2 separate regions of the Homo sapiens genome follow, and region 1 is linked to region 2. The links come from fine-mapping of genetic effects on gene expression. A gene starts in region 2. The other region holds a variant in brackets. All regions are shown on one strand. Distances are between the middles of the regions. Region 1 overlaps KIF12 (kinesin family member 12). Region 2 holds the start of COL27A1 (collagen type XXVII alpha 1 chain).

Region 1 (5,361 bases), 63 kb before region 2:
TCCCCAAGCCTGTGGCTAAGGCTGGCCTGCCCGGACCTTGCCTAAGTCCAGGGCATGGGTCTGAGGGGATGCCCAGCCCAAGGCCCAGCTCAGGTACTACTGGCTGAGGTGTCTCATCTCCTCTGTGCTGGTCTCTTTATAGTCCCCCAACTCCAGCTCATCCTTGCCAGTCAGGCCACCTCCCACAGGTGGCCAGCGTGACCTAAATACGAATCTAGGCTGGTGATGCCTTAAGACCCTTCCATGGCTCCCCTCTGCCCTTGGCACAAGCCCAAACTCTGGCTGTGACCTGGAAGGCCCTGCACTTCCTGGCCCCGACAAGCTCTGGAACCTCAGGGGTCTGTAGCCTTTGTGTCCACAGCCCCTCCACCTTCCCTTGAACCCAATGCTGTCTACCTTCCTACAAGCCTTAGTCATGGCCTCCTTGGGAAACCTTCTCTGACCCCCTCAATGATCACTGATCAAGTGACCTTCCTTTGTGCCTCCACAGTCCCTTGGGCTTCCCCCAGCCCCTGTGAGGTTGTAAATGCCTGTCTGTCCCCCACCAGACTCTGAGCTCCCTGGAAAAGCCACCTTGGCCCTTGTCTCCATTGTCACCTTTTAGCTTGATTTGCAGTTGATGCCAGTGTTTTTGCTTTGTTGTTTTTCAAGGCTGGAGTGCAGTGGTGTGATCATGGCTCACTGCAGCCTCAGCCACTTGTTTTCAAGTGATCTGCCTCAGCCCCCTGAGTAGCTGGGACTATAGGTGTGTGCCGCCATGCCCAGCTAATTTTTTATTTTTTGTAGAGACAGGATCTTACTGTTTCCCAGCCTGGTCCTGAACTCCTGGGCTCAAGCAATCCTCCTACCTTGGCCTCCCAAAGTGTTGGGATTACAGGCACCCAGCCATCAGTGTTGTTTGTTGAATGAATGAATGAACAAATGAATAAATGATGTGGGTCTGTTTCCCTAACTATAAGTGAAGAGTTAGGTTAGCCTCATAGCTCTTTCTATAATGGGTCCTCTCTCTGCTTCCCGTAATTCCTCATGTCATACTGGACTTCTCCATAACCACAGACCCACTGTATCTGATATGGTTTGGCTCTGTGTCCCCACCCAAATCTCATGTTGAATTATAATCTCTAATATTGGGGGAGGGACCTGGTGGGAGGTGATTGGATCATGGGGGAAGATTTCCCCCTTACTGTTCTTATGGTAGTGAGTTTTCACGAGATCTGGTTGTTTGAAAGTGTGTAGCACTTCCCCCTTCATTCTCTCTCTCTCCTGCTCCGCCATGGTAAGATGTGCTTGCTTCCCCTTCGCCCTTCTGCCATGATTGTAAGTTTCCTGAGGCCTCCCAGTCATGCTTCCTATACAGACTGCAGGGCTGTGAGTCAAACCACTTTTCTTCATAAATGCCCCAGTCTCAGGTAGTTCTTTACAGCAGTGCTGAGAACAGACTAATACAGCATTTTACTGGGCACTTATGCCATGAATCAGATATTGCTCACAGCCTTGACCCTCACTAGAACTCAGTGGGAAGGAAACTGTGTCCCCCACTTAATTGACTGAAAACCAGAGTGGTCCAGAGAGGGAACAGGACTTGCCCAGAGTCCTAGCGTAGATCTGTGGCACAAGAAGCCAGGCCTCCTGATCCCCACCAGCGCCAGGACCCATAGTGACACAGAGTGAGCCCCTTGACCACCCATCTCCCTGTGCTCCAGGCCAAATCAGTTTCCCTCATGCCTCCTTCATGGAGATGCTTGCCATTCAACTCCCCCACCGCCTACCCAATGGCATATAGCAGTTGCTTAATCAAAACTTGTATAATATGTGAAAGGAGGCTGGCTCACGCCTAGAATCCCAGCACTTTGGGAGGCCGAGGCAGGTGGATCACAAGGTCAGGAGATCGAGACCATCCTGGGTAACATAGTGAAACCCCATCTCTACTAAAAAAAAAAAAAAAAATACAAAAATTAGCTGGGCGTGGTGGCGTGTGCCTGTAATCCCAGCTACTTGGGCGGCTGAGGCAGGAGAATCGCTTGAACCCAGGAGGCGGAGGTTGCAGTGAGCTGAGATTGCATCACTGCACTCCAGCCTGGTGACAAAGCTAGACTCCGTCTCAAAAAAACAAAACAAAACAAAACAAAAAACCATGAAAGGAGATGGGAGATGGAAGCTTGGGATATTCCAGACTGGAAGGGGACACACATCTGTGCCAAGAGTCCTAGCCCTTCCTCCCTCTAATTTCCCACGGGGAAATAACTGATAACCCCAGAGGATAGAACCAACCAGACTTGGAGCTGATGCCTCTCTTTATTCATGTATTTCATCCCCTGCTGCCTGGTTTCTCCTGAATCCCCTTGTTCCCCTAAATAGCACCCCCAGTCCCCGCCCCTAGCCCAGCTGCAGGTGGAGTAGCAGCTGCTGTCTCCATTCAGCAGATGGGCAGACTGAAGCCCAAGAGTGTGGAGCCCAGTCTGAGGTCACACAGCAGTCTCCTGGGTTCCCACTTGGCCTTCAATGGGGAGGGAGGACTTGGCCTGGGCTCCGTGCGCCCTC[A/G]CTGCAGGGTGGCTGGCTGCGGCCACGTCGCAGGGAGCTGCCAATCTGGTCTCTGAGGGCCTCCAGTCTCTGGGCCAGGTTTGGAACCCCGGCCCCACCTAAGGAGCAGTGAGACTCGAGGCCTGCCCTCTCCAGGGCCCTTCCTCACCCAGGTCCATCTGGGTCCCAACACCCTCTGGAGAAGCCTCAGGGGGTAGGTACCCTCCACCCTTCCCCCCACCCCACCCCCATACACCATGGGCTCCAACATACATCTGGGCACGCAGATGCTCCTAAAAAGAGAATTCCAAGTTTGGGAAGTAGAAAGATCTTAGAAGCCACCTCTCAACACCCACCCCATTTCAGAGATAAGACTGAGGCCTGGAGAGGGTGGGTTCTACCCCAAGATCACAGAGAACATTAGGGGCCCCTCCCTCTCTCCCTTCTTCACCTCTGAGCCCTGGTGATGTCTTCGGGGGCCTCACAGGCAGGGGAGGTGCAGAAGGTACCACCTCCTCCTCCGTCAACATCTCTGCCAGGACTCGGGTCTGAGTCCAGTCACTGTGACTCCTGGGCCAGGGTGAGTTGGGAGATGGGAGGTGAGCCTTTGAGTTCCCCAGACCACCCCTCTCTGACCTCAGTGCCCCAGGAGAGACCCACCTCTCTCTTGGGCACTTGGCAGAGCCAGGGCTGCATGGGGGTGCCCAGGGTGGGGGCCGGGCAGATGGGGGCCTGCCACCTGAGGCCTCAGGGTCCAACACCTGTAGGAAAGACCAGAGTCCACTCTGGGTGACCTCAGTCCTGCCTCTCTGTGTCCCACCTACCTGGTGCTAGCCATGACACCCCACCATGCCTACCCCACAAGGTACCAAGAATGTCAGGATGGCATAAAGGGGTGGGGTCTTGGTCGCCTTCTGTGTGCAGCAGATGGTTCTTCTACCGTCCTCTCCTGAGACTAGAAGCCTCCTGAGAGCAGGAACCACGTCTGGTCTATTTCTGACTCCTCAGAGCCCAGAAGAGAGGCTGGTATAAAGCAAGGAGCTTGGGGAGTTACTGAAGGAGTAAGTGAATGTATGATTCAGTAAATCCATAAGTGAGTAGATATGTGAGTGAATGAATAAGTGAATGACAGAATGAATTCCTGGCCCTGACAGGGCAGGGTGAGGAGGGGGGAGGGTGAGGCAAACAGCTATTTCAAACCAGGGCAGAGGGAGCCCTAGGCCAGCCATTCACTCCCCATGATCTAGCCTGCAGCCCTGGAATCCCTGGGGCTCTGGATTGATGACTCCTGGATCAAGGTCTCCAGTTCTCCCAGCCTTCCCTCACTCCCACCATGGCCTTTCCTACCTGGGGCAGGTGGTGCTCCCCTGGCAGGCAGGCCCAGTGGGCCAGGGGCACTCGACACAGTGGGCAGATGTGGCAGCAGGGGCAGGAGTAGAGGGGTGGCAGTGCCTGCAAAAAGGTGCGTCAGAGGCTCCATGACATCCCTACTTGTCACCCCTCCAGGCTGGGCCGTGAGACTCACATGGCAAGGGGGAGCTGGGGCCATCAAGCAGGGACACGGTGGGGTCAGGCCAGGACCCTGCTGGTGATGGTAGCAGGCAGAGAGGAGACGCCTAGAAAGAACAGCAGGGTCTATGCCTGCAGCCTCCAACCCTACCACCAAGCTGGCTTTCAAATCCCCTTCCCAGCTAATACTCCTGGATCCCGTACCAGGTACCGGGCCCCATTCTCAAAGTTTTACATGTTAACTTATTCTCTCTGATTTTTAAAACAAGCCTATAAGTAGGCACGACGATGAACCCCATCTTACAGAAGAGGAAACCCAGGCAGTGAGAAGTTAAATGACTTGCCCCAGGTGACACAGCTAGTAGGTGGCAGAGCTGGAAACTGAACCTAGTTGGTCTGAATCCAGAGGCCAGCCTCAAGCAGTTCATTAAGCCATCCCTTTTCCCAGCTGCCCTCTGTCCAGAGGCCTGGCTCCAAGCTGGTGGCTCTGCTTACCTCTCTAGTGCATGGACCTGCTGGGCCAGGATGCGCTGCTCATTCTGGGCCAGGTCTCGGCTATTCTGCAGCTGGCTCTTTTCTTTCCTAGGGGAGATCACAAGCCAGGAAGGGGTAGGAAATGGGGCTGGGGTGGGGCATCAGTCAGCTCCTCCTCATTGCAGCATAGCACCAGTTCAGGAAGCAGGTGGGGACATAAGGGAGCCAGGGGCAGGGAGAGGAGGCAGTTTGCCAGAAGCAGCCTAGCAGTGATGGGTGGGGAGCAGCATCCCTCTGGCTGTGGGCTGTGCCCTACCTGAGCCTCTCATTCTCTAGCATGAACTCCTGTAGCATCCCGTACAGGTTCCGCTGGGCCCAGGCCACCCGGGCTCCACTGAGCCCTGAGGCTGCAGGGAAGCAGGAGGTGGTGGATCCACAGGAGCCCCAGACCCTATCCCCATCCTACTCTGCCTCCAGGAAGCCCATACCCTTGCAGTCCATTTGGTCCAGCTGGAACTGCAGGCGACGGTTCTCCTCCTGGAGCTGCAGCATCTCTGTCTCCAAACGCTGGGGCTGCTTTGCCACAGGAGACTGTAGGGAAAGAGGCCCAGAGCCACCTTTATGGTTGTATAAGTCGTGCACTGCACAAGAACTTCCGGGTGTGGGAAGTAACTGGGGCCTAAAATCCAGCCCATGCTTCATTCGTCAGCCTTGCATCTTGGCACAAGGCTGTATCTGCCTGGAAGGGGCACCTTGTCCTAAGTGCACTGTCCTGGAGGGCCCCACTCTGAGCTGGACTCAGCTGTGAGTCCAATCCCAAACTCAGTTCTGTCCAAACCTTGGGCCAGATAATGGTTC
Region 2 (5,361 bases):
GTGCGTGTCTCCTGTCCACATTACAAATGCGTGCATGACCAGAAGGCAGGACCATATGGAAATTTTTGTCCCTGCCCCCACAGTGGCAGACCCTTTTCCCCCAGAGTCTTGTACAGGGGTTTGCATACTGTAGGAGTTAAAACAAATAACTTATTTAAATTACCAACGGTTTGAGCATCTATTGTATCCCAGGCTCCATGTGTCAGGCTGGGTGTGGGGACACAGAGATGGATCTGACAATGACAGCGCCATGTGATGTGTGCTGCAATCCCGGTGTAGGGCAGAGCAGCTCACCAGAGTCAGGTGAGCTCTGGCCTGCACCTAGAAGAATAACCAGGTTGTGAACAGGCAGAAAAGGGGCAGAGGGAGAACCTGGGAGGAAACAGTATGGAGAAAGCATCGAAGTAGTCAAGCTTACCTGAGCCTGGGTGCAGGTATCAGAGAGACTGGAGCTCAGGAGGCCGGATCTGAAGCTGGGGAGGCTGCTGAGGATCTGCACAGAACCCCTTAAAGCCTAAGATTTGGATCCTTATGACAAGATGCAGAAGTTTGGAGTTAGGTTACCTGGGTTCAAATCCCACCTCTACCACCTACCCGTTTATGTCAGCTTTCCCATCTGTAAATGGAGAGAAAAAAGCAGGCCTCCCTTAAACCCCAGCACTGTGTGGGTCAGGGTCTGGACTAGGGTGTGGCACATGCAGAGATGCAGCATACCAGGAGATGCCAAGAAAACTCAGCAACGGAGGTAAATTGCCCAAAGCAGTGCCCCAAACCCCTAAGTAATCAAAATAATATTTTAATTTTTTACTTTTAAAATATTTTTAAAAGTATCAAAATTAATGCAAAACCCCACAATGAACAAAATATCTAAAATGTAAATAAAGACAGGGTCTGCATGGTACCAAGTATGCAACTAAAAAAACATCAGTTATGATTGAAGAGGGAGTTCTCAACCTTAGGGGGCCGTGGACTTCTGAAAACCGGAGGAAAGCCCACGGCCCCTCTCCCCTGAAGAATGCACAAACATGCTCAATTTGTGCACAGTTTGGGGGTGTTCCTGCACTCCCTGGGGTTCGTGCACATGGAAGTTAAGAACTCTGGTTCAACATTGGGGGTGCGGGGGTGGCGGGGGTGGTTCCACGCGCCGGCCAGCAGCCTGCCAGTTCCCCAGTCCCGCGACTGGCCTCCCTCCTGGCAGCCATGGGTGCTCTGCCCTCTGCAGGAAGCAGCGCACAGCTATGCAGCTCCCCCAACCCCCCTACCTCCCCTCTCTCGGCTTGGGACTTTTCCTAAAGTTTGTTGAAACCAGACACCTTGCTCGACCGAGCCCGCGTGCAGCCAGGGTTTAAAAGGCCGCCTTCAGCGCCCCCTCCCCGCCCCCAGCGGAGACTTCAAAAGGCCCGGCGGGCGCCGCCGCCCCAGCACCTATGAGCCGCCCCCAGCTCTCGGAGCCCGCGCCGGAGCCCGTGGACGCAGAGCTGCCGAAGTTCGAGCGCAGGCGGACCGGGTCGGCGGCGCAGTCCCGCGCGCCCATGCCCCTCCCGGTGCCGCTGCGCTCCGCGCGCCCGCGCCCCGTTTAGGGAAGGGGACCTCGCCCCCCGCCCCCGCGCCCACGGCTGCGGGGACCCATGAATACAAATGCCGTTAGGCGCCGGAGGAAGGACCGACCGGCCAGCCTCGCACGTAGGGACCCAGTAAGTGCTTGGGGGCTCCTGGAGCGGTGCGAAGTGTTATATGCCTGTGTGTGCGCGCGCCTAAAGGTGTGCGCGTATGGGGAGGTGGGTACACGCGTGAGGAGTGAATGCGTGTGTGCACATGTGCGGTGGGCACTCTCGGAGAACTGTGTGCAAGTGAGGGTGTGCGCGCGTGTGTCCACCCGGGGTGTGTACATGTGTGGGGGCGATATGGCCAGGATAGCGTGCATTTGTGCCTGTGTAAGCATCCGTGTGCATGCTTCTGCGAGTGTAGAGTATCAGCGTGCGCCTGAGCCCAGATATCTGAGGATGCGTTTCGTGTGAACCTAGGAAGGGTGCGTGGCTGTCCCAGAATGGGACCGTGTGTGAGCGTGTGTCTGAGTTTGGGGAAAGGGTGGATACGTGTGGGAGTGTGTGTGTGCACCGGTGAATAAGTGTAACTTTGCTCGTGAACGAGTGGCAAGAGGTGGTAGAGGCGGAGGGAGCTGTGGTCCCAGGGCTGGACTGGAGTTTTGGGTGTGAGAATTTGCCCGGGGGCCAAGGTGTGCAGCTCTTAGCTCCCGGATGGGATCCGAGGGAGTTTTTGTCGATTCTGGGGAGGTGCGTGGTTAGTGGTGGTGGTGGGGTGCGGTTAGATTCCAATTGCTGACAGAAGGGAGAGAGAGGGTGGCAAACCCTTAACAAGCCCACCCTATATGTTCTCCAGGGCGCTCCGAGTCTGGGAGCGCAAACTTTTGGTGGGCGGTGGGGATCACGATACTGGTTGTCGTGGGCGTCTGGACACCAAGTTCTGGTCCTAGCTCCGTCCCTGAAACTGTGGGTTTCTTCCAGGAGTAGAATTTGGCCCTTCTCCCCTACCCCAACCCCCCATTGGAGGACCCCCAGCCTCACCAGTCAGAAGTTCCTAATCTCAGAACGGTGATCAAATCACCGTGAAGCCCTGGGCAGCCCCTTCCTCTCTGTGAATCTGTTTCCCCATCTATACAAGGAGGAGGGGGGCGGGTGTCCCATCGGGGCTGTAGTGGGCCAGCTGAGGCTGTACCCTTGGCTCCGGCCGGCAGGGGGCAGCAGGGGGCAGCAGAGGGCGGCCGGGAGCGGGGAGGAGGGAAGGTGGAGAGCCACCGCGGGCCGAGACTTTAAATCGCCTTCATTTCCCCCAAATCCTTCCTTTTCCTCTCCTCCCCCAGGCCGGCGGGGAGGCAGCTTCCACCGCCCTCCGCGCGCCCTCACCCGGCCTTGCTCTGCCTCCGGGGACCGCCAGCAGCCCGCCTCCAAAAGTTTGATCATCTCTCTCTCTCTTTTTCTTGCTTCTTCTTCCTTTTTGGTGGAAGCAGAAAAGGACCGAGGCAGGGGCGAGCGCGGCGCCCGGACTCCTGGGACCATGGGCCTGGCGCGGGCGCCCGCGGGGCCCCAGCCGCGCTGCCTGCCTGCTCGGGCGCCCCTGGGCGCGGGGCTGCGCTGGGGGCGCGGGGGCCGCGCGCTCTAAGCCGGCCTGGCGCGGCGGGGCGGGGGGCTGGCGGCCCCATGGGGCGCGCCCACACTTGCCCCCCGGGCTCGGGAGCATGAAGTAGGGGCCTGCCATGGGAGCGGGATCGGCGCGGGGGGCCCGAGGCACAGCGGCGGCGGCGGCGGCGCGCGGGGGGTGAGTACGAACTCGGGGACGCCCCCTCCCTAGCTTCCTGCTGCTCCAATCTCGGGGAGGGCCGGGGTTCCCCGCCATGCGGTCGCTTCCAGCGGAACGTCAGCTTCCTGCCCCTTCCTGCGCCCCCGCGAGGCGGGACGCCAAGGGTTAATAGGGGCTGCGCCCCCGGCCGGGCGAGAGTTGGCGAACGCTGCCCGCCCTGCCGCGCCTGGCCCGGCTGCCCGATCCCGTTGGGGCGGGGGCAGAGCCAGCCCGGGGGTCGGGGGTGGGGGTGGGTGGTGGCGCCTGGAGCGGCCGGCGGGGTGCGGAGGGGGGCTTTTTGGATGCTTGGGGGAGGAGGGGGGTCTCCGTTTGGGGCCGTCTCGGTGTGTTCCGGTGTCTCAGTGTCTGCAGGTCCCAAGCCTGTACGTCTCCGTTTCTATCTGTTCTTGTGAAATTGTCCGCAAGTTTCTAGGTCACCAGGTCTCGGGTTCTGCTCCTGTCTCCGTGTCTGTGTGGCTCTGCACGTCCCCGCGTTTCTGGAAATCTCCGCGTGTTTGTGTTAGTCGGCCTGGGTCTGTGTGTCTGTGTTTCCTGCTTCTCGGTTCCTGTCCCTTTCACGTGTGTAAGAGAGAAAAAGTGAGAGCCAGCATGTCAGAGCAGAAAGGGCCCTGGGCGATCACTGTGCGGAACCCCTCAGTGTACAGATCGGGAGACAGGGCCGGAGAGGGGCAGGGACTCTCCCAGGAGCGGCTGCGCGGAGCTGGGGCCCAGAGGCTGGGATTCCCAGCGTGTGGAGTAGGAGTTGTAAGAGAGAGTGAGCCTGTGCTGGAGCCGGCGCAGCGTGTGGGTGTGTGTGGGAGCCAGCAGCATGCAAGCAGCCCGTTGGGGCCTGTGGACGGCGCTCCTCTCTTTCCATCCTGCCCCCAGGACACCAGGACACTCCCCAGAGGCTGTTAGGGCTGTAGCTGGGCCCTGCCCCCTTTGAGCTGGAGTCCGCGGGATGACACCCCCTCCTTTCTTCCCCATGTCTTGGAAAAAGCTGGCTGTTTGCGATTCCCCCGCCCCGCACCCCCTCACCACAACACACACACACACACACACACACACACATACGCGCGCGCGGCACCAGTGAGCACACTGCTGACTCATTTTCTCCAGAAGACCCTGCGCCAGGGTAGATGCCAGCAGTTGGGCAGAAAAGTGGTGCCAGGCGAGCACCCCATGGTGGGGCTCCAGCTGTGGGCAAGTGGGCAGTCAACACTGCTCGGAGGCCCAGTCTCTGCCTTCTCCTGCCTCCCTGCCTCCCTTGACATCACGTTGTCCTGCATCATGTGCGCTCTGGCGCCAGCATACCTCTGCTCTCCAGCATGCCTCTGCTCTCCAGCATGCCTCTGCTCCTGGACCCTTCTGGCCGGACCAAACTCCATGTCATGTCTATGGACACATCCCTGGCCTCTGCCTCCTTCTGTTTCCTCCCTGTACTCAGAACATTCTCCCTCTCCTGTGCCTCCACCAGCGCTGCGGACCCTCAGCAGCCAGCAGCCTCCTGGTGGTCTCTGTCCCTTTCTGAGCACACTCCCCTGTTCTTTGTTGGCATTTTCTCTCCTCCATCTCTGTCCAGGGACCCTCTTGATACCCACATGCCTGGCTTGGCTACGCAGAGTAACATATCCACTGGTGGTAGGGGACAGCAGTGAGACACTCACAGAATCATGTTGGTGGGAGGCAGGCGGCACCACAGGAGGGCCATGAGGCTTGCCATCAGGCAGGCTCGAGTTTGAATCCTAACTCTGCTGTGCCAGCTTGGGTGAGCCACTCTGCTGCTTGTTTTTCTCTTCCACAAAACCGGCACCTTATTCCTAGCTGGCTGGGTTTTGTGAAGATGAACAGGACCATGCTTGTAAAGGGCTTAGAACAGGGCCTGGCATGTAATAAGTGCTCAGTAAACGGCAGCTGGTATTTGTATTATTCCCTTCATGTTGAATGGGTGTGTGAGTCAATGGGAAAGTTCTGGGCTGCATCCTCTCCAGACGATGACCTGTC

The links. PIP is the estimated chance that this variant, and not a neighbour inherited with it, causes the effect. A credible set is the group of variants that fine-mapping cannot tell apart.
Region 1: its variant is the best candidate, but not a certain one, in a credible set for the expression of COL27A1 in aorta (GTEx, PIP 0.63).

The regions. Positions count from the first base shown.
Region 1 is chr9:114,089,362-114,094,722 of GRCh38, forward strand. KIF12 (kinesin family member 12) reads right to left here. Exons shown (of 19, transcript NM_001388308.1): 12 at 4,992-5,094; 13 at 4,820-4,910; 14 at 4,525-4,611; 15 at 4,046-4,136; 16 at 3,868-3,972; 17 at 3,181-3,281; 18 at 2,972-3,090; 19 at 2,277-2,639. The coding sequence ends at 2,500. Among named protein-coding and RNA genes, the nearest start is that of KIF12, 7.2 kb to the right of the region's middle. The variant A/G (reference allele first, on the strand shown) is at 2,542.
Region 2 is chr9:114,152,677-114,158,037 of GRCh38, forward strand. It overlaps COL27A1 (collagen type XXVII alpha 1 chain), which reads left to right and starts at 2,861. Exons shown (of 61, transcript NM_032888.4): 1 at 2,861-3,336. The coding sequence starts at 3,275. LOC105376225 (a long non-coding RNA gene) reads right to left here and starts at 1,592. Exons shown (of 5, transcript XR_930256.3): 1 at 419-1,592; 2 at 164-321; 3 at 1-11. RefSeq lists an enhancer at 668-1,189 and silencers at 2,726-2,845, 3,733-4,027.